Homo sapiens: one gene and its partner. The protein of the gene in region 2 interacts with the protein of the main gene of each other region in a pairwise test. Each region holds a gene or a part of one and is shown on either strand. Other genes may lie near its edges.

What was found. Proteins that work in one complex are often made in the same cells at the same time.
Region 1: the proteins of NECAB2 (region 2) and CAGE1 interact in binary tests that used the Homo sapiens proteins (3 or more experiments, as listed by UniProt).

What each region holds. Positions count from the first base shown.
Region 1 is NC_000006.12:7,372,743-7,380,534, reverse strand, and holds part of CAGE1 (cancer-associated gene 1 protein), read left to right. Parts: intron 1-1,514; coding exon 1,515-1,918; intron 1,919-6,403; coding exon 6,404-7,462; intron 7,463-7,792.
Region 2 is NC_000016.10:83,978,244-83,986,826, forward strand, and holds part of NECAB2 (N-terminal EF-hand calcium-binding protein 2), read left to right. Parts: intron 1-200; coding exon 201-309; intron 310-2,595; coding exon 2,596-2,621; intron 2,622-2,786; coding exon 2,787-2,884; intron 2,885-8,583. UniProt on the Homo sapiens protein: May act as a signaling scaffold protein that senses intracellular calcium.

The sequences.
Region 1 (7,792 bases), on a different chromosome or scaffold from region 2:
CTCCTGAGTAGCTGGGATTACAGATGTGCACCACCACGCCCCACTAAGTTTTGTATTTTTAGTAGATACGGGGTTTCACCATGTTGACCAGGCTGGTCTCGAATTCCTGACCTCAGGTGATCCACCCACCTCAGCCTCCCAAAGTGCTAGGATTACAGGCGTAAACCACTGCGTCCAAGACTTTTATATGGCTATAGATAGAGTGAGATGCTATTTATGTAAAATATAAAAGCACATAAAACAATACTATATATTAATCACTCACCTAAAGTGTTGCAGGGTATTTTGGAGTTTGAGGGAAACAGTGACACTGGACATCTATCAGACCCCCACAATCTGTTAGCTGTAGTTTTCACTATAAACCCATACTATAGTCCTTCCTATGATGTCTTATTTGTAAAGGTAGGTTTTTGGAGGTTGCTATAATAAAAAGCAAGTCCCGTATGAAAATCATTGTGGAATAGGAAGTGAGAGTGGTGGTCTCCAATCTGATTCCACGATTTGAGGTGCTGTACGGTGCCTAACAGTGTACATCCAAGTAGTAAAGTGTGGTTGTTTAAGAATAAAATATTATATTTTTCTTTTAGTTTATGTGTATTTTCAAACAGCTAATAACTTAGGACAAATACTAGTTTGAACTTAATTATTTACTAAATGGAACTTAAGTATTCCTTTTGGTCCAGAGGTACTGTGAAAAAAAGTACTGAGACATTAAGGGTGTCACAAAATGAGGAAATCTGGGAACTTTATTCTTTGGCAAGATTATGTTGATTTTATTATTTAGGATACATAAATCAGTAGTAAAAGTAAAATGGGAATGGGAAGAATGAATACATATGGGCTTCAGTACACTGGTTATCTCTGGGGAGGAGGAAAGTTAGATAAAAGGGATCAATAATTTGTAACATTCTGTTTTCTTATTTGCTCCTGATTTTAAAAAACATTACATCTGCATAATTTGTCATATTGAAAAATAGTATAGCATAGCATTTAGAAGTAGTAGTCTAGAATCTCAGCAGCACTGCTTAGCAGCTCTGTGACTTTGGACAAGTGACTTTAACATCTCTTACACTTCAGTTTCCTTATCTGTAAAATAGGGATAATAACAGTACTGACATCATGGGATTTTTGTGAGATTAAGCAAGTTTATATGTGTTTTCTATTATACTATCCTTGTCCTTTTGAAACATTGTATAATTTAAAACATCTTAAAATTACAGTACAACAAAAGAATTTTGAAGATCTCTTGAAATTTATTGTAATTTTATTTGACCAGAATTACATATAACACACTTTTTCCTAGCAGTCATTTGGGGACTTCTTTCCCCCATGTAAAAAGTTTTGTTTTGTTTGCTAGCACAAAACCATGCTAAAATTCACACAGTAAATAAGGTTGAAATAATATATAATTTTTAAGTGGCTACAGCAGTTTATTTGATAAATATAAATATAACTGTTACCATCCAAGTTCATGGTCTACTCGTTTTTATTTCCTTCTTTCTCTTTCTTATGAGATAACAACATTGAAAATTACTCAACGAATGCACTAATTCAGCCAGTTGACACCATCAGCATATCTTCCTTGAGACAATTTGAAACCGTTTGCAAATTTCACTGGGTAGAAGCATTTGATGATGAAATGACAGAGAAGCCAGAATTTCAAAGTCAAGTGTATAATTATGCAAAAGACAACAATATAAAGCAAGACTCATTTAAGGAAGAAAATCCAATGGAAACTAGTGTTTCTGCAAATACAGACCAACTTGGTAACGAGTATTTTAGACAGCCTCCTCCTAGAAGCCCGCCTCTAATCCACTGCAGTGGAGAGATGCTGAAATTTACAGAAAAGTCACTGGCTAAAAGTATTGCCAAGGAATCTGCCCTCAACCCTAGCCAACCTCCAAGCTTCTTATGTAAGGAAAGTGTACACAATAATATTGTAAAACCATTTGATAAAGAGAATAGTTCTAACCTAGTTCATCTGAGAGTTAATTATAAAGCAGAGGAGGTACGATTGTGATGGTCAGTAAAGCCTGTGGAGTATTAAAGGATGCATTTTAAAAATTGTATATATATATATATAATCTGAGACTTTTCCAAGTAGTGTTAAATCACCTAGTTAGCATGAGGGACTTTGCTTCTCTGGGGAAAATGCATTCTGAGATCTTAGCCAATTCAGAAATAAATTTTTCTAGTAAAATCAAGTCCATACTTGAGGATTAGCTCTACCAAATGGTAATTTCTCTAAGGATCAGGACTGTCTTACTCACCCTCTTATGCACCACAGCGTCTATATGTTTCCTTGAATATAATAAGCTTTTTTTACCATAATTTTTTTTCACCACAAACAAGTTTATTAGAGAAGTAAAGAAACAAAAGAATGGCTACTGTGTAGACAGAGCAGTCTGAATATAATAAGCTTTTATATTTGTTGAATCAAAATGGCTGGAAGTAGCAGAGTTTACACTGATGGAAAGGTCAAGAAGAGGAAGGAGTGCAGAGGCACTAATTCATTTTTCAAGAAAAACAAGATTTCTCTGTCATATTGGAATTCTACTGACAAGCAAAAAATACTACTTTTTCTACTAAAGTGAAAATATTAGTTTATCATTTGGTTTATTGATTCCGAGCACACATGTAGTATCCTAAGAGCACTGAAGATACCGACAGTATATATTCTGTGTACTTTCTGAACAAAAAAATTAAAAATACTAGGAATTGGTATGGGAAAATAGATAAAATTCAAGAATAGTATAAGTAATACCTTTTCTCTTTTTTTGTTGTTTTGTTTTGTTTTTGATACGGAGTCTCACTCTGTTGCCCAGGCTGGAGTGCAGTGGCATGATCTTGGCTCACCGCAACCCCTGCTTCCTGGATTCAAGCGATTGTCCTGCTGCAGCCTTCTGAGTAGCTAGGATTATAAGCGTGTGCCACCACACCTGGCTAATTTTTTTTTGTATTTTTAGTAGAGACGGGTTTTCACCATGTTGGCCAGGCTGGTCTTGAACTGCCGATCCACCCGCCTTGGCCTCCCAAAGTGCTGGGATTACAGGTGTGAGCTACCACACCTGGCCAATAATACCTTTCCAATGTGAGTTTGATGGGAAACACTATGACTATAATGTCTTATTTACAAGTATGAGCATTTTCATTTTTTTGAAAGTAGATGACAGCATTTAAAAGGACTTTATTTGTCCAAGTTGATTTCTGGAAAACAACCTTTTAAAAATCAGCTTAAATAGGGTTTCGCAAGATTGTTCTTTCCTCTTTTCATTGCATTTAGCCATTTTTCATTCAGTCAATAGATACTTTTAGGCATCTATTACATGGCAGGTCTGTACTACACATTAGGTGATGGTTAGAAAATAGACAAAAAGATGTAGTTCTTGTCCTCATGAAGACAGCATCCTACTAGAGGAGGTAGTCATTAATCAATCACACAAATAAATGTGAACTTGCAACTATAATAAGATCAATAAGGTGAATAAAGTTACATATAAAGTATATGTAGAGCATGTTATATAAAGTTACTATTTATGCTATGATGCTATATCAAGTTACAGATAAACTTGCAACTATGATAAGTGCTGCATATGTAAGTAGGTTGGGCATCTATGATAAGGACACTACCCTGATCAGGGAGTCTGGGGAAGGCATCCCTGAAGAAATGATCATTGAGCTGAGCTCTAAAGGATGGGTAGAAGTTAATTAGGCAGCCATGGGTAGGAGAGCCTTCCATACAGAAGGAAGAACGTCTGCAAACCCTGTGGCCACAGGAAGCATGGTACCTACTAGGACCTGAAGGAAGCCCTGAGTCCAGGAAGATCAGAGTTGGAGGAAGGAGGAGGGGTACAGCAGATGAAGACAGAGAGGTGGTGTGGGTCAGATACTGCTTTAGTTCATTTCATCTTGCTGCAACTATATCACAGACTGGGCAATTTATAATGAATAACAATTTATCTGGCTCACGGTTCTGGAGGCTAGGTCCATGGTGCCAGCATCACTCGAGGGTCTCTGTGCTGTCATTTCATGGTGGGAGGTGGAGGGGCAAAAGAAGGTGAGATCGAGGGAGCAAGTGGAGGCCAAACTAACTTTTATTTTATTTATTTATTTATTTATTTATTTATTTATTTATTTATTTATTTTGAGATGGAGTCTCGCTCTGTCGCCCAGGCTGCAGTGCAGTGGCACCATCTTGGCTCACTGCAACCTCCGCCTCCCGGGTTCAAGCAATTCTCCTGCTTCACCCTTCCCAGTAGCTGGGATTACAGGTGTGTGCCACCACGCCCAGCTAATTTTTTGTATTTTTAGTAGAGACAGGGTTTCACAGTGTTAGCCAGGATGGTCTCAATCTCCTGACGTTGCGATCCACCTGCCTCGGCTTCCCAAAGTGCTGGGATTACAGGTGTGAGCCACCACTCCCAGCCCCCAAACTCACTTTTGTAACAAATCCACTTGTGATAACTAACACACTCCTGTGATAACAACATTTAGTCATTTTTATTCACCTCTTACTAGGCCCCGTCTTCCAACACTGTTGCACTGGGGATTGGGGATCAAGCTTCCGGCACGTTAACTTTAGGGGATGCATTTAAAGCACAGCAGATATCAAGAGCAAGATATTAGGGCCTTGTAGGTCTCAGTAATGATAGTTATCTTTATCCCAGAACAATGAAAAACCATTAAGATACAAGGTTCTGCAGAAGGATGAGCTCAAAAAACAAAATACAGAAGTCCTTGTCTCTAAATTCCAGAGAATTATACAGCACACCACTACAGATACCTTTTACTGGGTTTTTACTTATTTATTTATTTTAGATACAAGGTGTCTTGCTCTGTTACTCAGATTGGAGAGCAGTGTGATCATGGCCCACAAGAAATCCTCCTGCCTCAGCTTCCCAAGGAGCTAGGACTACAGGCACATGCCACCACACCTGACTGATTTTTAAAATATTTTTTTTGAAGAGATAGGGTATCACTGTGTTACCCAAACTGGTCTCCAACTCCTGGTCTCAAGGAATCCTCTCACCTTGGGCTCCCAAAGTGTTGGGATTACAGGTATGAGCCACTGTGCCTGGCCTGGGTTTTGTTTTTGTTTTTTTTGTTTGTTTGTTTTTTGTTTTTTTGAGACAGAGTCTCGCTCTGTCGCCCAGGCTGGAGTGCAGTGGCGTGATCTCGGCTCACTGTAGCCTCCACCTCCAGGGTTCAAGCAATTCTCCTACCTCAGCCTCCCGAGTAGCTGGGACTACAGGTGCACACCGCCACGCGCAGCTAATTTTTGTATTTTTAGTAGAGATGGGGTTTCACCATGTTGGCCAGGATGGTCTTGATCTCCTGACCTCATGATCCACCCGCCTCAGCCTCCTGAAGTACTGGGATTACAAGCATGAGCCACTGCACCCGGCCCTGGGTTTTTAATGTCATATTCATTTCACCATTTCTTACCACAAATTACTGTCTTTTTTTATTTTTATTTGTTTATTTTATTATTATTATTTTTTGAGACAGAGTCTCGCTCTATCGCCCAGGCTGGAGTGCAGTAGTGTGATCTCAGCTCACTGCAACTTCCACCTCCTGCGTTCAAGTGATTCTGCTGCCTCACTCAGCTTCCCAAGTAGCTGGGATTATAAGCATGTGCTACCATGCCTGGCTAATTTTTGTATTTTGGGCAGAGATGGGGTTTTATCATGTTGGCCAGGCCGGTCTCAAACTCCTGACCTCAGGTGATCCACCCACCTCAGTCTCCCAAAGTGCTGGGATTACAGGCGTGAGCTACCTCGCCCGGCCTACTGTCTTTTTATAACCTCCTCGAGACCTCTATCGGCAGCATAAAGTCAATCATGAGGCATGTTCTTCTGCCATTCTAATGTTCCTGAGAGTCACAGAATAATGAGATAATGGTCTAAATGTGGAATAAAAAATATTCAAAAGAGAAGAGAACTTTCCCCCCTAAAAATCCAAACTTTTGGCCCAGTAATAACATGTAAAAAAAAAAAGAGAGAGAACTTGCAGTCTGTAAGGTAATTGATACATTTATTTGTCTGAATTTATTTGAAGTCAAAGCATCTTATATGTGTTCAGAGAAGTTTGCATAATAGAAAATGGTAAGAGGATGAAAGTTTAATTTTCCTTTTGTCAAAGTAAATGGGATGTATATCTGTCATATACCTACTGCCTGTGCCCTGCTGTGCTGTTAGGTGCTGTACAAACATTTAGCAATTAATACATAGGTATTAACTTTTGTTAATAGGCATTATTATTGGAAGTAGATACTATTGTTACTTTATAGCGGAGAAAGCCAAACAGGGGATCTACTAATAGAATTCAAGGCCAGCCCTATTTGACTTGAAAGCTCATTATCTTTCTACTCGTTCACACTTACTTTGTTTACTATAATTTACAGACTGCAGTTCCTTCAAAAGAAATACAGAATTATGGGGAGATTCCTGAGATGTCAGTCAGTTATGAAAAGGAAGTCACAGCAGAGGGTGTGGAGAGGCCAGAAATTGTCTCAACTTGGTCTTCGGCAGGCATTTCCTGGAGGAGTGAAGCATGTCGGGAGAACTGTGAGATGCCTGACTGGGAGCAAAGTGCTGAAAGCTTACAACCTGTTCAAGAGGACATGGCTTTAAATGAAGTCTTGCAGAAATTAAAACATACTAACAGAAAGCAGGAAGTGCGAATCCAAGAACTCCAGTGTAGTAACCTGTATTTAGAGAAGAGGGTTAAAGAACTACAGATGAAGATTACCAAACAGCAAGTGTTCATTGATGTCATCAATAAGCTAAAGGAGAATGTTGAAGAATTAATTGAAGACAAATACAAAATAATCCTAGAGAAGAATGATACTAAAAAGACATTGCAGAATTTGGAAGAGGTTTTAGCTAACACGCAAAAACATCTTCAGGAATCCAGGAATGACAAGGAAATGTTACAGCTTCAATTTAAGAAGATCAAGGCTAATTATGTGTGTTTACAGGAAAGGTACATGACTGAAATGCAACAAAAAAATAAATCTGTAAGTCAGTATTTAGAGATGGACAAAACCTTAAGCAAGAAAGAAGAAGAGGTAGAGAGACTACAACAACTCAAAAAAGAACTGGAAAAGGCCACAGCTTCTGCTTTGGACTTGTTGAAACGGGAAAAAGAGGCCCAAGAACAAGAGTTCTTGTCTTTACAGGAGGAATTCCAGAAACTTGAAAAGGAAAACCTGGAAGAAAGACAGAAACTGAAATCTAGACTTGAGAAATTGCTCACTCAAGTTAGAAATTTGCAATTTATGTCTGAAAATGAAAGAACGAAGAATATAAAACTTCAGCAGCAAATCAACGAAGTAAAAAATGAGAATGCAAAACTTAAACAGCAGGTTGCAAGGAGTGAAGAGCAAAATTATGTCCCTAAATTTGAGACAGCTCAGTTAAAGGATCAATTAGAGGAAGTCTTGAAGTCAGATATTACCAAGGTATTGATACACATTCTAAATCTCTAATGCGGAATTTCAAGAGTTTCTAGTGGTCTAGTGATGCGTATTTAGACGTGGCACTTATATTTGTTTGCAGAAAGAATTATTAAAGAAAGAAACAGATCTCGGCACTTTGGGAGGCTGAGGCAGGAGGATCTCTTGAGGCTAGGAGTTTGACACCAGCCTAGGCAACATAGTGAGACCCCATCTCTACAAAACATTTTTTAAAGCAGCCAATCTGTCATGCATGGTGGTGTGCGCCTATAGTCCTATCTATTCGGGAGGTTGAGATGGGGGAATTACTTGAGCTCAGGAGTTTGAAGCTGCAGT
Region 2 (8,583 bases):
GAATTAGCTGGGTGGGTAGGGATTATCTAAAATGGAATTTGTCTTTTAGTTTGGGGATTAGCTGGGAGGGTAGGGATTATCTGAGCTGCAGTTGTTCTGTCAGTCAGGCCATTGACTGGATTTGGGGGCCGTGCATGCACTAGCCCCACCAGCCTTATCTCTGCAGACACCAGCTCCTTTCTCTGCTTCCTTCCTTGCAGATGATGGGAAGCTGTCCTTGGAGGAATTCCAGCTCTTCTTTGCAGATGGCGTCCTTAATGAGAAAGAACTGGAGGATCTCTTTCACACGATTGACTCTGACAACACCAAGTGAGCTTCAGTCCTGGCTGGCAGAGTGGGGGTGTGTGTGGGCTGTGGTGGAGGCATCTTTTCATCTAGTGTCCGTTCCTAGTCCCCTGTAAGGGGCAGGAGAACTGAAAATCCCCAAATTTGCTAATCCAGAAGTCAGCTCTTCACTGCCTGGGGTGAATGGGGCGTGTGCAGATTCATATTGCATTGGCTACTATCGCAAGTGTGTCTTCTGAGTGCACATGGCCAACTAAGGAGAGACTCCTGGTTTTGCACAGTGGACATGGGATTATGAAAATGGGAAGGTGGCAATGACTTCATCCTTCTGCCATCTTCAGCCAGCAGCCAGTTCTCACCCCAACCCCAATGCCTGTGTGTCCTCCCAGTCCCAACATTAACTGTGAGGTTGAACGTCATCCTAACACTGACTCCTGTGTTAAACCAAACACGAATCCTAACTCAACACTACGTCTATCATTATAGCTTATTAAACCTTTTCTCCAACCCAGTCATAACCCTGACCTGCATCTCAGAATCAGCCAAAAACTCTGTCTCCACCCATCTCTAAATCAAGTGGAAAATGCAGATTCTACTCAGACTTACCCTTGACCCTTCCCAGCCTCACCTCCAATCTTGCCCTTTTCTTGGGATTCCCCAGACAGGATGAGGTCTGAGCCCTCTCCTCAACCCCACCTTCAGGAGGGATCAGAGCCCCACCTGGTCTCCTTTCTCAGGCCTACTCGCGTGATGAGGACCCAAGCTTCTGGAGGGCTGCTTAGGGCACATTTGGTAAGCGGAGGTTCTCTGAGACTGACTAGAGATGGTCTGGACAAGGAGCTACCACCAAACCAGTGTGCAAGGGGTAGAGTACAGTGGTGGTTTGGACCAGAGGCTGCGGCTGAGAGAGTCCTGGGGGGCACTGGCTGGGGACCGGGATATGGTAAGTGGAGCAGATACCATCCTCTGGGAAAGGCCACTTTAAAGAAATGGCTTCAGGCTCCAGACTGCAGAATGGAGAACTGTCTGGGGCCAGATGGAGATTTCTGAGCTGTTACTGCAGCTTCCTGGGGTGCTTTGAAGGGGCCAGGCAGGTGCCCATTGATTTAGACCTTCTCTTTCAGGGCCTTTTGTGTTAGGACCAGCGGGGTAGAGGAGGGGGTGGAGGCGGAGGGAGGAGGAGGCACTGGTTTGAGAGTCGAACTGTGAGAGTACGTGTGGGTGGGTGGGGGTGCAGGGAGGACTCGCGGTTATGGAAGGTCAAAGCTCTATAAAGACTTTTAGGATTAATCTCCCCAACATTACCTAAGGTGTGAGCCACGAACATTAGCCCCTTGGGATGCTAAATAGACTTTGTGCCCAAAACAGTGTACAAACCATCAAAAAGTTTTGTGAAACATGAATTAAAGCAGAATGACAGGGTCGCTTTCTGCAGGACTTGCCAGAACTCTGAATATGAGATGGAGGTTGGAGGCACCTCCTGACAGAGCATGCAGAGCCCCCGAGTGCAGATTCACTGGGCCACAGAAGCCTTCTGTCCAGATGTGCTTTGCTGAGCCTGGGCTCCACTGAGCACGATGAGGGACCTAGGCCCAGAAAGGGCCACCACCGTATTGGGTCCCTTGCACATTGACTTGGCAGTAGCTCCTTATCCAGACCATCTCTAGCCAGTCCCAGAGGGCCTCAGCTTATCAAATCTGCTCCTAAGCTGCAGAACCACCATAGTTCCCAGCACTGCACCCCTTATCTTGGGGCCGGTCTGTGCTCCTTCACTGCCATGGGGGATAGGCTCATGCTCAGCCTGCTCCCCCAAGAAAGGACAGGACCCTTCTCCAGGCTGTAGGAATGGGGATATGGGACCCAGGGGCTGCGACCAGAACAGGAAGGGCTCTGCCACAACCCCAGGAACTCCAGGACCCAGCAGGCAGGGTCGACTGGGGGTGGGTCAGTGGGTCAGATGAGAGCTTTGCTGACAGCCCGTCACAGTAATGGGTCCCCACTCTCTGTCCCTTTACCCCTTTCCTGGCCCCCAGCTTGGCCCTCCCCTTGGTGTCATTTATTCATGATGGGGTCAGCAGACTCCGAGAAAACAGAACAAGGGTGGGTGGTGTGGGGGATCAGACAGACGTGGGCCTTCAGGGGCGGGGGTGTCACCTACCTGCTGCACCCTCTTCTGTAAGGCGGAGCTTGTGGGGCCAGCACACAGGCTGCAAAGAGCAGGCAGGATGTGTGTTTCGCAGGCTGTGCAGGGTCAGGCCTGCTAACCCCCTCTCTGTCTCTGTCTGTCTCTGCCTCTGTCTGTCTCTGCAGCCATGTGGACACCAAGGAGCTGTGTGGTAGGTGCCTGGCTATGCTGGGACCAAGATGGGGATGCTGGGATGGGGCTGGATGAGAAGGGCCTGAGGCAGGGGAGGCTGGAGGTAGCGCAGGTGGGAGGTGCAGGAGTGCTGAGTGGGAGGGGCAGGACCTGTGACCCCTGACCTTTGCCTTTCCTTCCCCAGATTACTTTGTGGACCACATGGGTGACTATGAGGATGTCCTGGCCTCCCTGGAGACCTTGAATCACTCTGTCCTGAAGGCCATGGGTTATACCAAGAAGGTCAGTGGGTGTAGGTGGCCCCCGGGGTCCAGGGCTCCAGTGCTGCTTCAGTTCCACCCTTGCCTAAGGATGCCTGGATTTTTGAAGACAGGCCGCCAGGGAGGCCTATCTCAGGGGTGGGCTTTGCCTGGGCCTCTTTGAAGCAGCTGAGATGAACTGGGAAGGGAATAGAATGGTTTGGTGAATGGCTCTGGTTGGGAGCAGGAGGCATTTTCCCGGAATCAGGCCTGATCCTGGGCTGGGGCCTTAGAAAGGGTGGCCGCAATCACCCTGTGCCCTTAAGGGGTCCCCAGACAGGTGTCGTACCCTTCAGGGTGGGCTTACAAGACTGGAAGAGGGGGCGGGGTGGGGCGTGGTGGGGGGTGGTGGTTCATGCATCTGAACCCTGTCCCATATCAGGTTCTCGATGCTCAGCACCTGGTTTAATCCTCACAGCAACCCTATGGGTGGTTGCTGTCACCTCCACTATCTCACAGCTATGGAAACAGAGGCTCACAAAGGTGAACTCAACAGAGTCACAGCCAGACAGCCATAGCTGCTGGCTGGGATGAGTGGGGAAACTGAGTCAGGGACCTGGCAATAGGCATGGGAGTGTAGCATGAGACTCCAGGCACACCCAGGAGGCAACTGGAGAGTCAGTCATCCAGGAGCAGAGAGCAGCCATAGGGCACACTGGTCCAGGCCCACGGTGAGGGAACTGGGAGCATGCAAGGGTGAGGGACCCACAGGTGCTCGAGGCAGCAGCCACCAGCACCCTGAGCTTTGGGAGTCCAGAAAAGCCCAGCCTTGTCTGCCGGTTGAGGCCGGGGAACTTAGCTGATAAAGCCAGCCAGACCTGGCTGAGGGATCTGAGCTGGTTATTTCCCTTTCTGAGCCTCAGTTTTTCCATCTGTGAAATGGAGACATCCACCTTATGAATTACGAAGTCCTTCAGAGATTGAGCCAAGTAAGGCCTCTGAGCTATTGAGCATGCAGGACCAAGCTCGGAGCAAAGGCACCTGCTGGTTTGTATCAATACGCTCCTACTGTACGCTCAGCCAGATATTAAAACCCATTCTGTGCAATTTTCCCATGCTTCTCAGTTAGTGACCGCCATGTATTAGACAGTCTCTGTTTTGCCATATATCTAACAATAGTTGGGCCTCATTCTGGGCCTCCACGATTCCACATTTCCATTTCTGTCCCAGTATCATGCTGTTTTGAGTCTTGCTGTTTTAGAGTATATTTTAATACCATGTAAGACCTGCTCCCTTCAAGTATTAATCTTTGTAGAATATCGTTTGATATCCCCAAGTATCAAGGTATAGGCGGTGGATTAGAAGGTAGCATGGGAAGATCCCAGGCTTCCGAGTCACCCAGACAAGGGTGGCAATGCCAGCTCTGCTCCAAACAGGCTGTGTGAGGTCACCATGTGCTCACAGATGACCCTGGGAAATGGAAACCACCTCCTTGAGCCTCGGTTTTCTCACCTTAGAAGGGGCCCACGTCCTAGCCATGCTGTGAGGCATTCGTAACATCCATGGTTGCGTCTTGGTCTTCAGTCAGACTTTTCAGGAACATAAGAGAGTTCTCCATCAGTGTCTACTGATACAAGTTAGACCGGTTTTAGAGATCTTGCTCTTGGAAGTCATGTGCGTATGATGTCAGGGGTGGTCTTTGGTGGTTTTTTTGTGGCAGTCGTGGTGATGATAGGTTGTTGCATCCGTGATTGGCATTTCCTTTTTTTTTGTTTTCTTTTTCTTTTTCTTTTTCTTTTTTTTTGAGACAGAGTCTCACTCTTGTCCAGGCTGGAGTGCAGTGATACAATGTCGCCTCACTGCAACCTCTGCCTCCTGGGTTTGAGTGATTCTCCTGCCTCAGCCTCCCGAGTAGCTGGGACTACAGGCGCCCACCACCACTCCTGGGTAATTTTTGTAGTTTTAGTAGAGACGGGGTTTCACCATGTTGGCCAGGCTGGTCTCAAAGTCCTGACTTGAGGTGATCCGCCCACCTCGGCCTCCCAAAGTGCTGGGATTACAGGTGTGATGTGATTGGCATTTCTTTTGCTTGCGTATTTCCTAAGTGGTTTTTGTTTGTAGAAATGCAGCTTGTCGGTTGTTGTTTTGAATGCTTTTCTTGTATGTGCTGTTTGCTTTCGTCAAGCCGCAGCATCAGTTATTAAGAGTGCCGTTGTCTCTGCATTCTAACACGTGCCCCTCTTGCTTCCCTGTCTATCCTGTGGCATTTCTCTCATGTTCTAAAACGTCGTGGTGGGGCACGGCCAGGCATGCTTGTTTGGCTCCTGATTTTCGAGTGCATCTCTAGTACTTCTCTGCTGATTATCATATTAATACCAGCTCTTATTTTAGAATCCTTGTCAGCATGTTGGAGAAATATTTTTGCATTCCCTTTTTTCCATTTTGTCTTAGGAGGGTGGTGGTGAATTTTTTCAAATGCCTTTTGGTATTTTTAAATGATCATATGATTTTTTTCCCCTAAGCTATTGATGGGGTGGATGCTATTTTTAGATTGTCTCAAATTGAACAATCCTTCGCTCCCTGTGATAAACCCTAATTGGTATATTATTCTTTTATCACATTACTGAGTCCTTGTCATGAGCCAAGAATTTTATCTCTGTCTCCATTGGGAGTGGAGATCGGATGATAGCTTGGGAATGATTTTGTGAAGTGGTTTTGAATGTGTTCTGTGTATGAATCAGCTTCTCTAACATAGCATCATTTTTCTACGTAAAAATAGAATTTATCCATAACGCTTGGGTCTCAGTGTTAAACAGGGGAGGGGATGATTTTCATAGTTATTTTAAGGTCATCTCTACTTTTAGTCAACTTTTTCACTTGTCCATTGTAAAATACATATATATATATGGTGGTTTTTTTTTTTTTTTTTTTGACGGAGTCTCGCTCTGTCATCCAGGCTGGAGTGCAGTGGCACAGTCCCAGCTCACTGCCAGCTCCGCCTCCCGGGTTCACGCCATTCTCCTGCTTCAGCCTCCCGAGTAGCTGGGACTACAGGCGCCCGCTACTACGCCTGGCTAATTTTTTGTATTTTTAGTAGAGACGGGGTTTCATCGTGTTAGCCAGGATGGTCTCCATCTCCTGACCTCGTGATCTGTCCTCCTCGGCCTCCCAAAGTGCTGGGATTACAGGCGTGAGCCACCGCGCCCGGCGGAATATTTTTAAACAAAACTGCCCTGGGCATAGTCGTTTTTACAATCAGTCATGCATGGAATGTTTTATGATTATTTTTAAAAATCTAAAACATTGTTTGACACACGCAGGCACTTAATGCACATTAAGTTCAATAAAAGATCTGCTGCCGCTCACGGTGGCTCACGCCTGTAATTCCAGCACTTTGGGAGGCCGAGGCGGGAGGATCGCTTGAGCCCAGAAGTTCAAGACCACCCTGGGCAACATAGTGGGACCCCGTTTCTACCAAAAACAAAACAAAACAAAATTAGCCGAGCATGGTGGGATGTGTCTGTAGTTCCCACCTTCTTGGGAGGCTGAGGTGAGAGGATCTCTGGAGCCTGGGAAGTCGAGGCTGCAGTGAGGCACAGCATGCCGCTGCAACCCAACCTGGGTGACAAGAGAAACCCTGTCTCTCAAAAATAAAAAAATAAAATGTGCTGCTGTAGCTCACATCTTAAGTTTCTCCCATTTTTCTACATTTTAAAACCTTGTATTTGACAGTTTTGCCTGTTTTAATTAGCTGTTTCAAATAACAAGCTCCTGGCACATTTATTTAAATTTCATGACATGTTTTCTTATTTATTTATAGCTCCTATCATTATTATTTCCTCCCTCTTATAACTTTAGGTTTGTTGTTTTTGCTGTTCTTTTTCATATGTGAAATGGAATGGTTTTTTTGATAATGTTGACATTTTTAAAATTTACTTTTGATGGGGGCTGGGTGCAGTGGCTCACGCCTGTTATCCCAGTACTTTGGGAGGCCGGGGCGGGCAGATCACCTGAGGTCAGGAGTTTGAGACCAGCGTGGCCAACATGGTGAAACCCTGTCTGTACTAAAAATACAAAAATTAGCCGAGCGTGGTGGCAGGCGCCTGTAATCCCAGCTACTTGGGAGGCTGAGGCAGGAGAATCACTTGAACCCGGGAGGTGGAGGTTGCAGTGAGTAGAGACTGCGCCATTGCACTCCAGCCTGGACAACAAGAGCAAATCTCTGTCTCAAAAAAAAAAAAAAAAAAAAAAAAAAAAAAAAAGGTTACTGCTGGGTGCGGTGGCTCACACCTGTAATCCCAGCACTTTGGGAGGCCGAGGCAGATAGATCACAAGGTCAGGAATTCAAGACAAGCCTGGCCAACATGGTGAAACCCCGTCTCTACTAAAAATACAAAAATTAGCTGGGCGTGGTGGCAGTTGTGTGTAATCCCAGCTACTTGGGAGAGTGAGGCAGGAGAATGACTTGAACCCGGGAGGTGGAGGTTGCAGTGAGCCGAGACTGCCCCACTGCACTCCAGCCTGGGCAACAAGAGTGAGTCTCCATCTCAGAAAAAAAAAAAAAAATTACTGTTGGCGTTCCCATAGCAATCACAGATGTTAATGTGTAGTATTTTCAACCTATTATTTGAGCAGCCTGTTATGTTCTCATTTATTTTTCAGTTCATTGTATTAAGATAAAATTGAATGACCAGAAAGGTTTCTACTCTATTTTTTTAATGTACTGAGATTTTTCCATTACATTTGTGTTTGTTTTTGTAACTACCTCATGAATGCTTAAGACGATGTGGATTGTGCTTGCAGAATTAGCAGATCTGAAAACAGCTATCCTTTCTTCGTTATGAAATACGTGCTGCTAAGAGGTACTTTTTTAAAGGTAAAATTATGTCTCTTCTGCAGGTATTAAAATACACATCAAATATTTTTTCTTGTTTCTTTTTTTCTTTTTTGATACGGAGTTTCTCTTTCGTTGCCCAGGCCAGAGTACAATGGAGTGATCTCAGCTCAGTGCAACCTCTGCTTCCTGGGTTAAAGCGATTCTTCCACCTCAGCCTCCCGAGTAGCTGGGATTACAGGCGTGCACCACCACGCCCGGCTAATTTTTGTGTTTCTAGTAGAGACGGGTTTTCACCCTGTTGGCCAGGCTGGTCTTGAACTCCTGACGTCAGGTGTTCCACCCGCCTCAGTCTCCCAAAGTGCTGGGAGTACAGGCATGAGCCACTGCGCCCAGCCCAAAGATTTTCTCTAACTCAATATGAGAATCAGTAAGATACTGGAACTGGCTCAAAGGAGAATTGAAAGAACTTGTGCACTAATACATAGGTAAATAGCAATTCCGAAATCAGTTGGTGAATAAATGCATGAATGGTCACTATCCCAGGGCAACAACCAATTGCCCTGTGGAGAGTGCCAGACAAACTTCCTGTGCATTTCTGTATAAGAGATAAAGACGGGGTCTTGTTGTGTTGCCCAGGCTGGAGTACAGTGGCACAGTCATTACTCATTGCAGCCTCAACCTCCCAGACCCAAGTGATCTTCCCACTTTAGCCTTCCAAGTAGCTGGGAACACAGGTGGGTGCCACCACTCACGGCAAATTTTTTTTTTTTTTTTTTTTGGTAGAGACAGGGTTTCCCTATTTTGCTTAGACTAGTCTCAAACTCCTGGGCTGAAGCAATCATCTCCCCACCTTGGCTTGTCCAAGTGCTGGGATTACAGGCATAAGCCACCATGGCCAGCCAGAA